Regions from separate parts of the Homo sapiens genome. Here region 2 is reported to be linked to region 1. The links are microRNA targets in miRTarBase. Many come from high-throughput screens and were not tested one by one. Region 1 holds a microRNA gene; the other region holds the end of a gene's coding sequence.
What was found. Region 1 holds the annotated microRNA hsa-miR-4492 (GGGGCUGGGCGCGCGCC, at 5,042-5,058, shown strand). A microRNA usually pairs through its seed, bases 2 to 8, with sites in the 3' UTR of a target mRNA and lowers its output. Matches are read on the target gene's strand: a 7mer-m8 pairs with bases 2 to 8, a 7mer-A1 pairs with bases 2 to 7 and ends in A, and an 8mer does both.

Region 1 (7,113 bases):
GGAAAATCGCTTGAACTCAGGAGGCAGAGGTTGCAGTAAGCCGAGTTCGTGCCATTGCACTCCAGCCTGGGCAACAAGAGTGAAACTCCGATTCAAAAATAAATAAATAAATAAATAAATAAAAGAATCTAAGGGTAGTACGACTAAAATAGTCGCCTTGAGTATGGGATGTTAGCAATTTCTACTTTGTATTTCCCTATGTTTGCCAGGCACAGTGGCTCACTCCTGTAATTCCAGCACTTTGGGAGGCCAAGGCATGAGGATCGCTTGAGACCAGGAGTTCAAGATCAGCCTGGGCAACATGGCAAGACTGTCTCTACAAAAATTAGCCAGGTGTGATACATGCCTGAGCCCCAGCTACTTGGGAGTCTGAGATGGGAGGATCACTTGAGCTCAGGAGTTTGAGGTTGCAGTGAGCTGTGATCACACCACTGCACTCCAGCCTGGGTGTCAGAGAGAGACCCTGTCTCTAAACAATAAATAAATAAAACTCACAAAGTTTCTACAATGGTGCAGTCTGATGTGACATAAGTGAACTGGAGGTGGTGGCTATGGGGGGAGGTGTCTGGTCTGGGAAGCAGTAAAGGCTTCTATCATCAAAGGGTTCAGCCAGAGGCTTGGCGACCACCAGGTTAGTCCCACGGGGGAGAGAGAACTGATACAGGATGGTCTGTGAGGTTCCAGCTAGCTGTAGAGGTTTGGTATTTGACCCTCTACACCCCTGTCACAGACATAGTCTGCTCACTCCATAACATTTGCTGACTCTCTCTCCTCCTCTGTAATTGGCATCATGATAACACTGACCTCACAGGGCTGTTGTAAGGATTAAATAAAACAGAGTAGCAAAGTAGCCAATGTACTCTTTTCTTTCTTCTTTCTATGGTCCCTGCCTTCAAGGAGTTCACAATTTAATAGTCTCTGGCTAGTTTCTTTTTCTTCTTTCTTTACTTCTTTCCTTTCTTTCTCTCTCTCTCTCTTTTTAGAGATGGGGTCTCCCTATGTTGGCCAGGCTGTTCTTGAACTCCTGGGCTCAAGCAATTCTCCGGTTTCAGCTCCCCAAATTCTGGGGATTACAGGTGACAGCCACCACACCCAGCCTCTCTGGCTAGTTTCTTATGTCTCTCTCCTCAAAAAGATGTAAACGTAAACTTTGAGGGAAAAAAAATATGTACAAGCTTCCCAGGGGCAGGGGTTACATCTGGCTCTCCCCCATCACTCATGGAAGGACAAGATATAGGCGAATCCATAAAAGAATCAGAGGAGGAGTGGGCATCCCTCCACACCCACTTCTTGTCCTGGTGACACACCCTGGGTACTTGCCAGGAGTCAATTAGAGGTTAGGGAAGGGCACTAGAGACACGGCCAAGTGGCAACTCACACCCAGGCTTAGCAGGGCTTTGCACAGCAGAGCCAACTGCCCGGCTCCCAGTGTCCCTGGACGCTTCACCGCCCTCCCTCCACTAACCAGTAGGTGGCAGCATAGGCCAGGAATTCACAGGTAGAGGTGCAGGTGACGTGACCAAGAAGGAGGCCACTCCACTCTGCCCCACCTAGGGTCCCTAGGGAGAGGGGGTCACTGAGCACCTGGAAGGCAGAGGCGAGGCAGTTGCAGTGTAGGGAGGGACAGAGTCTGAGAGGTAGGATGGGAGAGAAAAATCCAGGACTCCCAGTCCTCACTTCTTTCCCAGGCTCAGTCCTCTCAAGTCCATCCCCCAGGAACATCACGGGCTACAGCACCCTGGCATCGACAGGCACTCACTGTGGGTGGCCCCAATGGGCTTGTCGTCCTCCTCACTGTCCGGTCCAGAGCACCATTCGTCCCCACTGTACGGCTGCTTCCGCTCCAGCACACAGCGCCGCTTACTCCGCGGCGCCACCTCTGCCCAGGCAGGACGGAGGAAAGAGTGAGTGCCTAGAGGCCCCATTATTCTCCCACACCCAGGGTCCCTCCCAGATCCATTCTCTAAGATGCCCCACCCTAGAGGGCACTGCCCAGGCCATGGTGGGCACTTCGCCAGCCCGTGGCCCCCACCACGCCACCATTTGTTTCTGATTTCTCTCTATAGCCCCATGCCTGTCTCCCCTCCCCCCCAACACCAAGTACAGCATAATCCCCAACCACAACTGGTTCTAATTAGGGCTGGAGGGGAGGGGGAGCTGCTGCTACTCTTCCAGGCCCCAGTGCCTGCTCCCAAAGGGCTCCCACCAGCCGGGATACGGAGGCTCCTGGAAGTGTGTGGGTCTGGGGTCTGCTCCTCACTCCATGGCACCTCCCTCTCCCCTTCTGGAGCTCTGGTGGGAAAGCAGGAGGGGAAGGAGTCCAGAAGTCCGACCACTCTGTGTGGCCCCTCCATGGGTGGCATCATGGCCAACCCCAATCCCGAATGATCTGGTTGGTGGGTGTTGAAAGGTACCCATGCAGAAATACTGGAGAAGAACGTGGGATGAGGACTGGACAAGCAGGGAGCAGAGAGGTGATCTCCCAGAACATCTGAGCCTTGGACTATGGGAGATGCTAGGGTCTTAGGGATGAGGAAATGGGGTACCTTTGGCCTCTGAATCCAGGGATGGGGTCCCAGCCTCTCGCTGCTCTCCAGAGTCCACAGACACACTCCGGTCCCTCTTCACCTTGCCCTTGAGCGAGCTGAAAGGGGGCACCCCTGCCTGGGGGTTCTTCAGACTTGAGTTGCTAGGCGAGATCTGGTTGGCCTTGGCCCCATGGTTCCCCGCCCCCACGCCCTTCGAGCCCACGTTGCAGGTGGGTCCTTGGTTCACATTCTGGTGCTGAGATTGGGCCCCGCCATTCCCTGTCTTGCCATGATTGGTCAATTTATTTTCTGGGTGCATTGGCTTGGCTGGGGCAGGGGGGCAATGACCGCGGGGGGACAGCGGCGGGCTCCCTGGAGCTTCTCTCCTCCTGGGGTGGGGTAACCTGGGAGGAGGTGGGAGAAATGTGAAAAGTTAACCTTGCTAGGGGCTAGGCATGCCTGCAACTTAATTACCCCATCCTGCCTCCCCTAACAATGGGGGAGGGTGGGGGGAAGGGGTGGTATCTCAAGACCACCACCAGCTATTCTCTACCTCCCTCCATGGCTTCCTCAGACAAGGGCTGAAGCCCTCATCCACCTTGGGGAGTGGAGATGGGGAAACCCTCCACCCCCTAGCCTCCACAATTTGAATGGAAACCAGGGCCTAGAGTTGGCAGAATTCACCCACCTCAGCCCCAAAACACCCATCAGCCTGCAAGCTTCTGTGGCAACCCTGTCCTCTGTATCAGACTTAAGCATCCTCTCTTCTAAGATCTGCTGTCTTCAGACTCCTTCCAAGGTCTCAAACCTCAACTCCCATATGTCCCAACACCAGCAGAGAAGGGCCACAGGACCTGGGGTCACTGCACATGCCCGGGTCTCATTCCCCAGGGACAGTGGGAAAACGCACACCAGGGAGTGCTACCCACTGGTCCAGACAGCTGGAGGGGAAGGCCTGAGGAGGGGGGCTTGGCAGGCCAGGCCGGCAGGCAGAAGCAGGAGGAAAGGGGGAGGGGAGCGGTGTGTCAAGCAGATGGGGAGTGTAGCTTGAAGCCAAGGATTCCTGCAGCCTAGGCTGCGGGCCCTTTAAGCTCCAGCCCGCTCCCCCCGCCGCCTCCCCCTCCCCGGAGACCTATTAATAGCCGCTGGAAAGATCACATCACGGGAGAGGATATTTATCCCCCCTCATTCCACACCAGCTCAGATTTATTTCAGCTCTGCTGTCCTGCTGCTGCCGCCTGGCCCTGTCTGCCGGCTTCTCCGGGGAGGGGGGAGGGAGGCAGGCACCGCCCCCTACTCCAGCTCCCACCTCCAGCTAGACTGAGGCCAGAGGCGGCCTTCGGACCCCACAGTAGGGTGGGAGGGGGTCTGCTCAAACCATTTTAAGGAGGGAAGAACTAGAAGGGACCAGAAGCCGCAAGCATAGCTGGCTGCCAGTCCCCTCTGCCCCCCACCCAGGCCCAGGCACTAAGGCTGGCTGCGCCTCCTGCCTCGGGCCAGGCCTTCCCATGCTAACCCCCCTTTAGCCCACTGGTGGCCTGGGAGCCAGGTGCCCAGGGCGGCTCCTCTCCTGGCCAGCACAGCTTGGGCCCCATCACCACTGGGCCCTTCCCTTCCCGCACTCCACACACACACATCCCACCCGCCACGACACCCACACACCTTGTCTTGTTAGCCAGGATCCTCATGGCTCCCACACACAGTGGGGCTACGGCCCCTGTGCGTGCCCAGGGCCCAGCCAGGTACTCGGTACTGGAGCACGGACTGCAGCAACAAGCCCCAAAGAGAAAACTCGTGACTTGGGGAGGGGGTGTCAGAGGGGGAGGGGAGAAGGGAGGACCCAACAGCCCTGGGACTAGGGAGCTGGATAGGGTGGGGTGGCACTGGAAAAAGAGGATTACGAGATGGGGTCTCGATCCTGGAGGCCAGCCCTGTCCCCATCCCTCCCGCACCTTGCCCTCAGGGGGCTTGCAGTCTCCAGCAAGCCTCCGCCCCGACGGGCGGCAGAGACAGAATTCACTAAAAGGCTAGGTAGCAAAGGTGCCGTGTGGGGCGGCTGTGAGGTCTCCCCTGGCCCCCTGAGGGATTCCTGCTCCCAGACGCGCCCCTCACCCAGGGTGGGGTACCCCTCGTGCCCCACCCCCAGAGCGCTCCAGCCGTGGAGGGGGCCCGGGGTTGGGGCCACGCCCCGCCCCGTCCCCAGCTCGAGGCCTAGCCCGTGCCCATCCCAGCAGGCCCGGGCGGGCAGCGAGAGGCCTGGCGGGGCCCCGGGGCTGCAGCTGGGCTCTTCTGGAGACCAGTAACGCTGGCTCGGATTCCTCCCCGACCGCAAGAATGCAGGAGCCTCCCCTCCCCCCGCCCTGCACCCCCACCCCGCCCCCTTCGGCAGAGCCCGGGCGGAGAGGCAGAGCGAGCGAGCGACAGCCAGCGAGGCAGCGAGCGGGAGGCGGACAGGACTGCAGCGTGCTTCTCCAGGCCCCGCGCGCGGACAGACACACGGACAAGTCCCGCCAGGGGCTGGGCGCGCGCCAGCCGGCAAGAGCTTGGCGAGCCCCGGGTGCTGCCAGCAGAGGCTCAGAGACCCACAGACACCCGAACTCTGACTCACACACACTCACAGCTCACACGTGGACAGGGAGACAAGACACGCACGGAGCCCAGGAAGCTAGAGGCGCGCCGAGGCCAGGGAAGCGCCGCCGGAGCGGGAGGCGCGGAGACAGCCTGGGGCACGCGCAGACACCGGGGCTGCCCGAGGGCTGAGTGGGAGCGCCGGACCCATTGAACAGATGAAAAGACTGAGGCCGGCCACAAGAGAGCCGAAGAAAGTTGAGCCTGGTAGTCACAAAGAAACACGCACAGGGCCATAGATACAGCAACAGACTTACACAAACACAGAGGCCTCACCCAACCGCCCCCAGCCCTGGCTCCCCCCTCGCCTCCCCTACCCGCCCTCCAGCAGCCCTCCAGCAGCCGATCCCGGTCAAAGGGGAGGAGTCTTGGGCCCAGGAGCTTCGTCCCGGTGACAGGCCCGGCCAGACACCGGTGCACACTCCTGATGCTCCCTGCGGGGCTGCTGGAGGCTGGGCGGGGACCTGGGGGTGAGGGGGCCCCACCTGCCACCCTGCGGGAGTCTAACCCCAACTTAACCCTAGGGCACATTGGCCTTCGCCACTCCAGCCGTGTCTCTGGGGAGGAAGGCTCCTGGGGGAAGGTTCCAAAGTCCAGGACCTGCCTGGGAAGCAGCCCGCCACCCCCAGCTTCTCCATCACAACCAGGGAAGAGCAGAGGCAGAGGCTGGAGTCACTGAGATACCAGGGCTCTGAGCAGGCTCCTGGCTGGCATGCATCTCAGGCTCTCCCTTCACCAGCTCGCTGATTCTCAAAAGGATCGACCCCATTTCAACGAGGAAACTGAGGTCTGGGAAAAGGAAGTGGCGTGACCTTGAGTCACATATCCAGTATGTGGCAGTGTGGGGACGGACCCTCATTCCAGACACTGCAGTGACCCCACCTCCCCACGCCAGCCATGACTGCTCCTCTGAGCCTGCATCAGATAGTTGGGCTTCCCACATTCCAGCCACAGTGCCCAGGTCCCCCATAAGGGGGGAGGGGCAGGGCAAGGGCCACTCACTACCTATGTTCACAGCCTCAAAAATTGAGAACCTGTAAGAATTTGGGAAGGGGCTATTAGAAAATCAGTCCTCTCCAGTGGCCGTTCAGGCCTAGGCTCCTCCCCAGAAGACTCTTCCAGTCACCCTCCCCTCCGGGACTCCACCCCCTCTCTCCCACCCCGCCGCAGGGCGAGCTGAGTCAAGCGTGGATGAGTCAGGACTTTCCCATCTCACACCTCCCCCCTTTGCCCCTCAAGAGTCTGCCCCAGCTCCCGAAGACCCCTCCTCCTCCACACACTCACAGTCTCCGAAGACACCTGGAAGGCCTGGTGATGGGAAGCCAAGAGGGCTGATCCCAGCCCAATGCAATTTTAAAGCACCCAGTGAAGGGGGCTTGCTAGTACCAGGCCAGGGGCCCTTGAGGTACGAGAAAGCAAAGGGATGGGGCTCTGGGAACACGTCACCGTGCCTCCCTCTTAGGGGGTTAGGTGGGGAGGGGTAGCAAGCTCACAAACAGGGAGCAGGTGCGAGTCACCTGAGTGGAAGGCCAGGCGCATACCAGGAGAATGAATCGGAGGAGCGGAAGAGGCGGCTTGACAAAGGGCCTGAGATATCCATCCGCTCCCCCACCCCGAGTGACGCGAGGGTAGGAGCTAGCAGCCTAAGGGTTGCTAAGGGTTAAAGTGGACTTGATCCTAGCTGGGGGAGGGAGCTGAGGAAGGCTCAGATGCCCAGAGCCTCCAGGTATGACACACCGGCTCTGCTCCACACACAACTACCACAGGTAGGGCAGGCGTTCACACATCCAGTGGCAACCTGCCTGCTCCTAGCTGCCCCCACGTTGGGAGCCTCTGCTTGGCTCACCAGCTGGCCCAGCAGTGTCACTGCCTAGCTCAAAACCACCCCAAAGAGGCAGTGAGGAAATGTTTTGGAGGGTTCATGCTCCTGAGCTGCCAGGGCCCCCTGTGATGACGT
Region 2 (7,106 bases), not on the chromosome of region 1:
AGTTTCTTAAGTTTGCTCCTTCTGTTTACTCTCACATTAGAAGTCTGAGAGAGTTTCCATGATTGTCCACTAAAAAATTGCCCATATTTTTAATCTTTTAAATAGAAAACACGGCAGATGTGAAACAGTGTCTTATTGTGGTTTTCATTTGCACAGACCTGAATGCTAAGGAGGCTGACCATCTTTTCACGCCTGTATTGACCGCTGGGGTTTCAGCTGGGGGCTGTCTGCGTACGATGCGAGGGAGGGTGAAGTTTCTTTTTGTTCCAAGTGAGGGGGAGTTGTCACAGCACCTCTGCCATGCAACATTCTTCCTCACCATGTGGCACCCCATCTCGCTCTTTTTTTTTTTTGAGACCGAGTTTCGCTCTTGTTGCCCAGGCTAGAGTGCAGTGGCGCGATCTTGGCTCATCGCAACCTCCGCCTCCCGGGTTCAAGCGATTCTCCTGCCTCAGCCTTCCTGAGTAGCTAGGATTACAGGCATGCACCACCACACCTGGCTAATTTTGTATTTTTAGTAGAGACGGGGTTTCTCCGTGTTGGTCAGGCTAGTCCCGAACTCCCGACCTCAGATGATCCACCCGCTTCGACCTCCCAAAGTGCTGGGATTACAGGCGTGAGCCACCGCGCCCGGCCCCATCTCTCTTCTATCAGCTTCCGTGTGCGCGGTCCAGCTTCTGAGCTCTTTGTTTGCTCTGGTCTGAATGTTTTTGTCCCCCTAAATTCATATACCGAACCCTAATCCCCCAGTTGATGGTATTAGGAGGTGGGGATGTTGGGAGGTGATTAGGTTATGGGGATTAGTGTAACTGAACTCGGGTTCAGGCCACTCACTCGCCGACATTCGAGAGACAAGTTTTGGTAAAAGGAAAGGTAGCTTTATTCGAGAAGCCAGCAGCTTGGGAGGTGGGGGCAGGGGCACTGAACTCTTGTGTTCAAAGATCACCTCTCCAAGTTGTGTCTCCAGATGCACGTTTTTAAGGGAAATCTGGGGAAGTGCGAATGATGATCAAAGCATTCTTGTGGAACAGCAGCTATGTGCGCAGTCTCAGGCAGGTAGTTACGATTGCTGTCTTGCGGGGATGTCATGTGACCTTTTGCAAGTGCAGCTATTTTTTTTTTTTTTTTTTTTTTTTTTTTTTTTGGAACAGGGTTTCATTCTGTTGCCCAGGCTGGAGTGCAGTAGCATGATCACGGCTTACTGTAGCCTTGACCTCCCCAGGTTCAGGTGATCCTCCCACCTCACCCTCTACAGTAGCTGGGACTAAAGGCACGCACCATCACACCTGGCTAATTTTAAAATTTTTTTTAGAGATTGGGTTTTACCAAGTTGCCCAGGCTGGTCTCCAACTCCTGGGCTCAAATGATCTCTCCCCCTCAGCCTCCCAAAGTGCTGGCTGCACCAGGCCAGCCAGATTAGTCTTAGTTTTGCTTTTTTTTTGGACAGTCTCACTCTGTTGCCCAGGCATGGCTCATTGCAGCCTTGACTTCACTGGCTCAGGGGATCCTTCCACCTCAGCCTCCTGAGTAGCTGGGACTACAGGCGTGTGCCACACCTACTTAAATTTTGTTACTATTTATAGAGACGGGGTCTCCCTATTTTGCCCAGGCTGGTCTCAAACTTTTGGACTTACGTGATCCTCCTGCCTCGACCTCAGCCCAACTATTCTCATCTGGTGGGTGGAAACCTGCGGCTAGCCGCTTCCAGGATTGCTGGTCAGTGCACTTCTCTCTTATCTCTGCTGAAGGTCCTCTTTCCCTGAGGCTGTTTTTAATGAATAGTGTGTAAGCGTAAGCAAAGCTGTAATTATACTCAAGCAAACACAATTTTTCTTTAAGGTAGACTCAGTACTGTTATATTAGCACCCTCCTAGAAACCGAGCCCAGAGAGCTGCCTTGCCCCTTCTGCCATGTGAGGACGGAGCAAGACGGCACCATCTATAGACCAGGAAACAGCCCCTCCCCAGACACCGAATCTGCTGGCACCTTGGACTCCCAGCATCCAGAATTGGGAGAAATAAATTCCTGTTGTTGATAAGCCACTCAGTGTATGGTATTCTTTTTTTTTTTTGAGACGGAGTCTCGCTCTGTCACCCAGGCTGGAGTGCAGTGGCACAATCTCGGTTCACTGCAAGCTCCGCCTCCCGGGTTCCCGCCATTCTTCTGCCTCAGCCTCCCGAGTAGCTGGGACTACAGGCCGCCCGCCACCACGCCCGGCTAATTTTTTGTATTTTTAGTAGAGACGGGGTTTCACTGTGGTCTCGATCTCCTGACCTTGTGATCCGCCCACCTTGGCCTCCCAAAGTGTACGGGATTCTATGACAGCAGCCCAAACGGACGAAGATGTGCACTTGTGTGTGTGTGTGTGTGTGTGTTTTTTTTTTTTTGAGACAGAGTTTCGCTCTTGTCGCCCAGGCTGGAGCGCAGTGGCACGATCTCGGCTCACCGCAATCTCCGCCTTCTGGGTTCAAGAGATTCTCCTGCCTCAGCCTCCCGGGTAGCTGGGATTACAGGTGCCCACCACCATGCCCGGCTAATTTTGTATGTTTAGTAGAGACGGGGTTTCTCCATGTTGGTCAGGCTGGTCTCGAACTCCTGACCTTAGGTGATCAGCCCGCCTCGGCCTCCCAAAGTGCTGGGATTACAGTCGTCTGCCACTAAGCCTGGCTAATTTTTGTATTTTTTTAGAGAGGGGGTTTCACTATGTTGGCCAGCCTGGTCTCGAACTCCTGGCCTCTAGTGATCCACCCACCTTGGCCTCCCAAAGTGCTGGGATTACAGGCACGAACCACTGTACCTAGCCCCAGTGCACTTCAGAATCATCCTGTCAAGTTCCGCAATAAACCTGTTGGGGATTGTCAGTGAGCAACGTAGTTTATTGGGAGTTTGGTGGTGGTGGTTTGTAAAAAAAAAAAAAAAAAAAAAAAAAAAACAAACAACAACAACAAAAAACAGGCCATTCACAGTGGCTTGAGCCTGTAATCCCAGCACTTTGGGAGGCCTAGGTGGGAGGATCGCTTGAGCTCAGGAGTTCAAGACCAGCTTGGGCAACATAGTGAGACTGCGTCTCCACAAACATTTTAAAAATTAGTTGGGTGTAGTGACTCATGCTTGTAGTCCCAGCTACTCAGGAGGGTGGGATGGGAGGACTACTTGAGCCCAGGAGTTAAGAGGTTCCAGTGAGCTATGATAGTGCCACTGCACTCCCACCTGGGTGACAGAGCGAGACCCTGTGTCTAAAAAAGTAAAATGAAATGAAATAACAACAAAGCAACAAATGGATGTTAGATTTTAGCCAATATTCTGTCTATTGTGGGTGGGTTTTCCCCTGTCATCTATATTCTTCTCACTCTTCCCAGTTGAGGGTGCTGGGTGCTGGAGGGACCGCAGGGGGAAGTGGCTCTCTTGCTGTTTCTGTTCTGGACGGGGATGGTCAGCATGGGTGATGGTACTTTCAGTGCACATGATTTTTCTACAGCCTGGCTGCGCTGGGGATAACATTTCCATAGTCTTCTTTATTTTTTTCTGAGACAGGGTCTTGCTCTATTACCCCGGTTGGAGTTAGTGGCATGATCATGGCTCACTGAAGCCTCGACCTCCTGGGCTCAAGTGAGCCTCCCACCTCAGCCCCCAGAGTAGCTGGGACCACTGGTGCACACCACCACGCTCGTCTAAAGAATAGTTTTTGTAGAGATGGGGTCTCACTATATTGCCGAGGCTGGTCTGGAACACCTGGGCTCAAGCGATCCTTCTGCCTAGGGCTCCCAGCGTGTTGGAATTTCAGGCATGAACCACCACGCCTGGCCTCCGTAGTCTTCCTTTTTTTTTTTTTTTTGAGACGGAGTCTCACTCTTGTCACCCAGGCTGGAGTGCAGAGGCGGAGGTCTCCTCCGCCTCCCAGGTTCAAGTGATTGATTCTCCTGCCTCAGCCTCCCGAGTAGCTGGGACTACAGGCGCACACCACCACACCCGGTTAACTTTGTATTTTTAGTAGAGATGGGGTTTCACCATGTTGGCCAGCCTGGTCTTGAACTACTGACCACCAGTGATCCGGTTGCTTTGGCCTCCCAAAGTGCTGGGATTAAGGCATGAACCACTGCCCAGCCTCCATAGTCTTCTTGACACAGAAACCAAGCCTCATGCAGCCCACATGCTCTAAAGGGCTCCTGCCTCACTCCTTGTGCCTCAACCTCCCACTGCACATCCATGCCTCTGGTGGCTGCTCACCTGACCCCACCTCACAGGGGTGGCCTATTGCTTGGTCAGCAACTCCAGCCCAGCTCCTGCCTGGCCAAACCAGAGACTGTCTTTGCTGTCTGGTGGCCAAACTGCACGTTGTCCAGAGGTCTGACTCCTTCCAAGCTGGTCCTTTCTGGGTACTTTCCTTCAGCCCTAGAGTACCAAATAATTTCCTACATCTTACAGTTTACTCTTTAAAACGGTTTAGGCCGGGCACATTGGCTCACGCCTGTAATCCTGGCACTTTGGGAGGCCGGGGCAGGCAGATCACCTGAGGTCAGGAGTTCCAGATCAGCCTGGCCAACATGGTGAATCCCCGTCTCTACTAAAAATACAAAAATTAGCTGACGCAGTGGTGCATCTCTAGTAGCAGCTACTCGGGAGGCAGAGGCTGGAGAATTGCTTGAACCCAGGAGGTGCAGGTCGCAGTGAGCTGAGATCTTGACACTGCACTCCAGCCTGGGCGACAGAGTGAGACTCTGTCTCGGGAAAAAAAAAAAAAAGTTTTAAAATTGAGATATAATTCACAGACCATAAAATTCATCTTCCAAAGTTTTTAATTCATTGGTTTCTAGTATATTCACAAAGTTGTGCAACCATCATTCCACAATTTCATCATCTTCCAAAGAAAGCCCGTCCCTGTTAGCTGTCATGCCTCTTCTCTCTTCCTCCAGTACCTGGCAACCACCAATGTGCTTTGTCTCTGATACACAGATTTGCCTATTCTGGACATTTCACATAAACTCGTGATTGGCTTCTTTCACTTAGCGTAATATTTGTAGGATTCACTCAGGCTGTGGCATGCGTCAGAATTTCCTTCCTTTTTATGGCCAAATAATATTCCATTGTATGGACAGAACACACTTCATGTCTTAATTCATCTGTGGATGGACATTTGGGTTGTTGCTACCGTTTGACTTTTGAGTAATGCTGCTATGAACGCGGGAGCACAGGTATTGTGTGGATGGATGTTTTCAATTCTCTTGGGCATAGACCTGGGAAGGTTATACTTTTATTGATATTAATAGTTCTGATATTGGACATCCCTGCTGTGTGGTTTCACCTCTCATGGACTCTGACGGCTGCTGTGCCTTCTCTGCTCGGCAGGCGGTGCCCTGAGGCACAGGTGGGCGTCTGGGGCTGGAACTCTCGCTAGGCGCTACAACTTCCTCTCCTGCCCTGTGGCAGAGCCAAGCCCCTTGCAGGGCTGTTGCCAGCATGGGATGAGTCTATGAAAACACGTGGCACGCAGTAGGTCCACAGTTACCACTGGCAGCCTGGCAAGCCTGGCAGGGCCCGGACGGCAGATGCGCTTCGGTGCTGCTGTGAGTCTTGTGCTCTGCCTTAGGCAGAAAGTCCTGGGTTTGTGTTTTGTGAATGAATGACGCATGAGTGTGCCAAATATCCTTTACGTGACAGAAGAGGAGAGGGCTGGCTTGATTGAGTGTGGGGGGGAAGAACCTGGATCTTGTAATGTAATTTTTGTTTAAAAAAATTAGGGAAAAACCCCAAATATGACCATTTCCTGCCATTAGCCTGCAGATGAGCAGCTGACTCCCCAGTCCCATCCCTCCGCACTGCTTTTCCCTGTCCTGGGTCTGTTCTGTTACATGGAGTTCCTGGGGGAAGCCCTGGGGCCGGGGCATCTGCCCAGGGCTCACTGCTGTTGAAAGTGAATAAAGAACGTCCGGATTTCCTTTGGGTGGACGGTGATGATGGGGCCTCCTGGTGGCCTCGAGGGAGAGGTGGTGTCACCTAGGGGAACAGAGGTGATCTGTCCAGTGTGGCCTGGGATGCCTCCTCCCAGCCTCCCTCTCACCCCCTGCACCTGTCTACAGTCTGCTGTGGCTCCCAGCCTCCCTCTCACCCTCCTGCACCTGTCTACAATCTGCTGTGGCTCCCAGCCTCCTTCTCACCACACTGCACCTGGCTACAGTCTGCTGTGGCTCCCACCGTGGCAACGGCCTATGGCATCCCCTTCTGCCAGGACTCCTGTGGGCCTCTTGGCGTTTCTGCCCACCCTGAGGGCAATTCATAGGTTGGTCCTGGCCCTAGTGGCCTCAATTCCTCATGGGTGTTGCCCTCAAAGCCCAAGAGCTTTCTGAGACCATCTGGTGAGTCTGCCCTTGCCTCACCAGGCTCCCCTGAAGGCATGCCCTGGGGTTGGGCTTCGATCTTGGGAGGGAGCCGTCCACTTATCTATCACTCATCCATCTTCCTTCCTTCTTTCCAACCAACATCATCTTCCCTCCCTCCCTCCCTCCGTCCCTTCCTTCCTCCCACCACCAACTGAGCGTGCACCATGCACCCGCCACCATGCTGTGTGTAGTGGACAACGAGCTGCACAGGACAGAAGAAACCCCTGGGGCCAGGAGAGTGGAGGAGGCACTTGGCCTGGTTGGTGACTCTGGGGAGGCATCCTGGGGAGCTTGAGCAGGTGCTGGCCAGAGTGAATGGGACCTGTGCGTCCCAGGCAGAGGGCATGGTGCGGACAGGGAGTGGAGCCTGGAAGCTGCCTGTAGTGCAGGAGCTCACGGTGGCACATGTCGTATGAGGCAGGGACCGGCTGATGGGCTGAGGTCAGCAGGGCCAAGGTGGGCAGAAGCCCCTGGGCCCCTAGCTGTCACCCAGGGCACAGGCAGGGCGTGTGGTCTGCGTGTGCACACGTACAAGTGCACACACACGCCTGTGTGGAGCCCTGGCAGGCAGAGACTAACCCAAAGCCTTTCTTAACCGACTGTAGTAGATTTGGGAGGGCTGCGGGTTCAGAGTAGGAAAGCAGCCTCGCAAGGTCGCACAGGCCGGGACAGGCAGATGGTTGGATGTGCACCGGGTCTGACCAGCTGCTGAGCCTGGCTGGGAGTCCT

Region 2: the mRNA of MAN2B2 is a reported target of hsa-miR-4492. Seed matches in the 3' UTR shown: 7mer-m8 at 5,668-5,674 and 7mer-m8 at 5,377-5,383.

What each region holds. Positions count from the first base shown.
Region 1 is chr11:118,905,724-118,912,836 of GRCh38, forward strand. MIR4492 (microRNA 4492) reads left to right here and starts at 4,985; the gene lies at 4,985-5,064. BCL9L (BCL9 like) reads right to left here. Exons shown (of 10, transcript NM_001378213.1): 3 at 4,191-4,292; 4 at 2,547-2,932; 5 at 1,760-1,879. The coding sequence starts at 4,216. RefSeq lists enhancers at 1,740-1,809, 3,538-4,079, 5,163-5,702, 5,970-7,113, 6,245-6,786 and 1 more.
Region 2 is chr4:6,620,076-6,627,181 of GRCh38, reverse strand. It overlaps MAN2B2 (mannosidase alpha class 2B member 2), which reads right to left. Exons shown (of 19, transcript NM_015274.3): 19 at 3,820-5,994. The coding sequence ends at 5,897. Among named protein-coding and RNA genes, the nearest start is that of MRFAP1, 17 kb to the left of the region's middle. RefSeq lists a silencer at 4,539-4,732.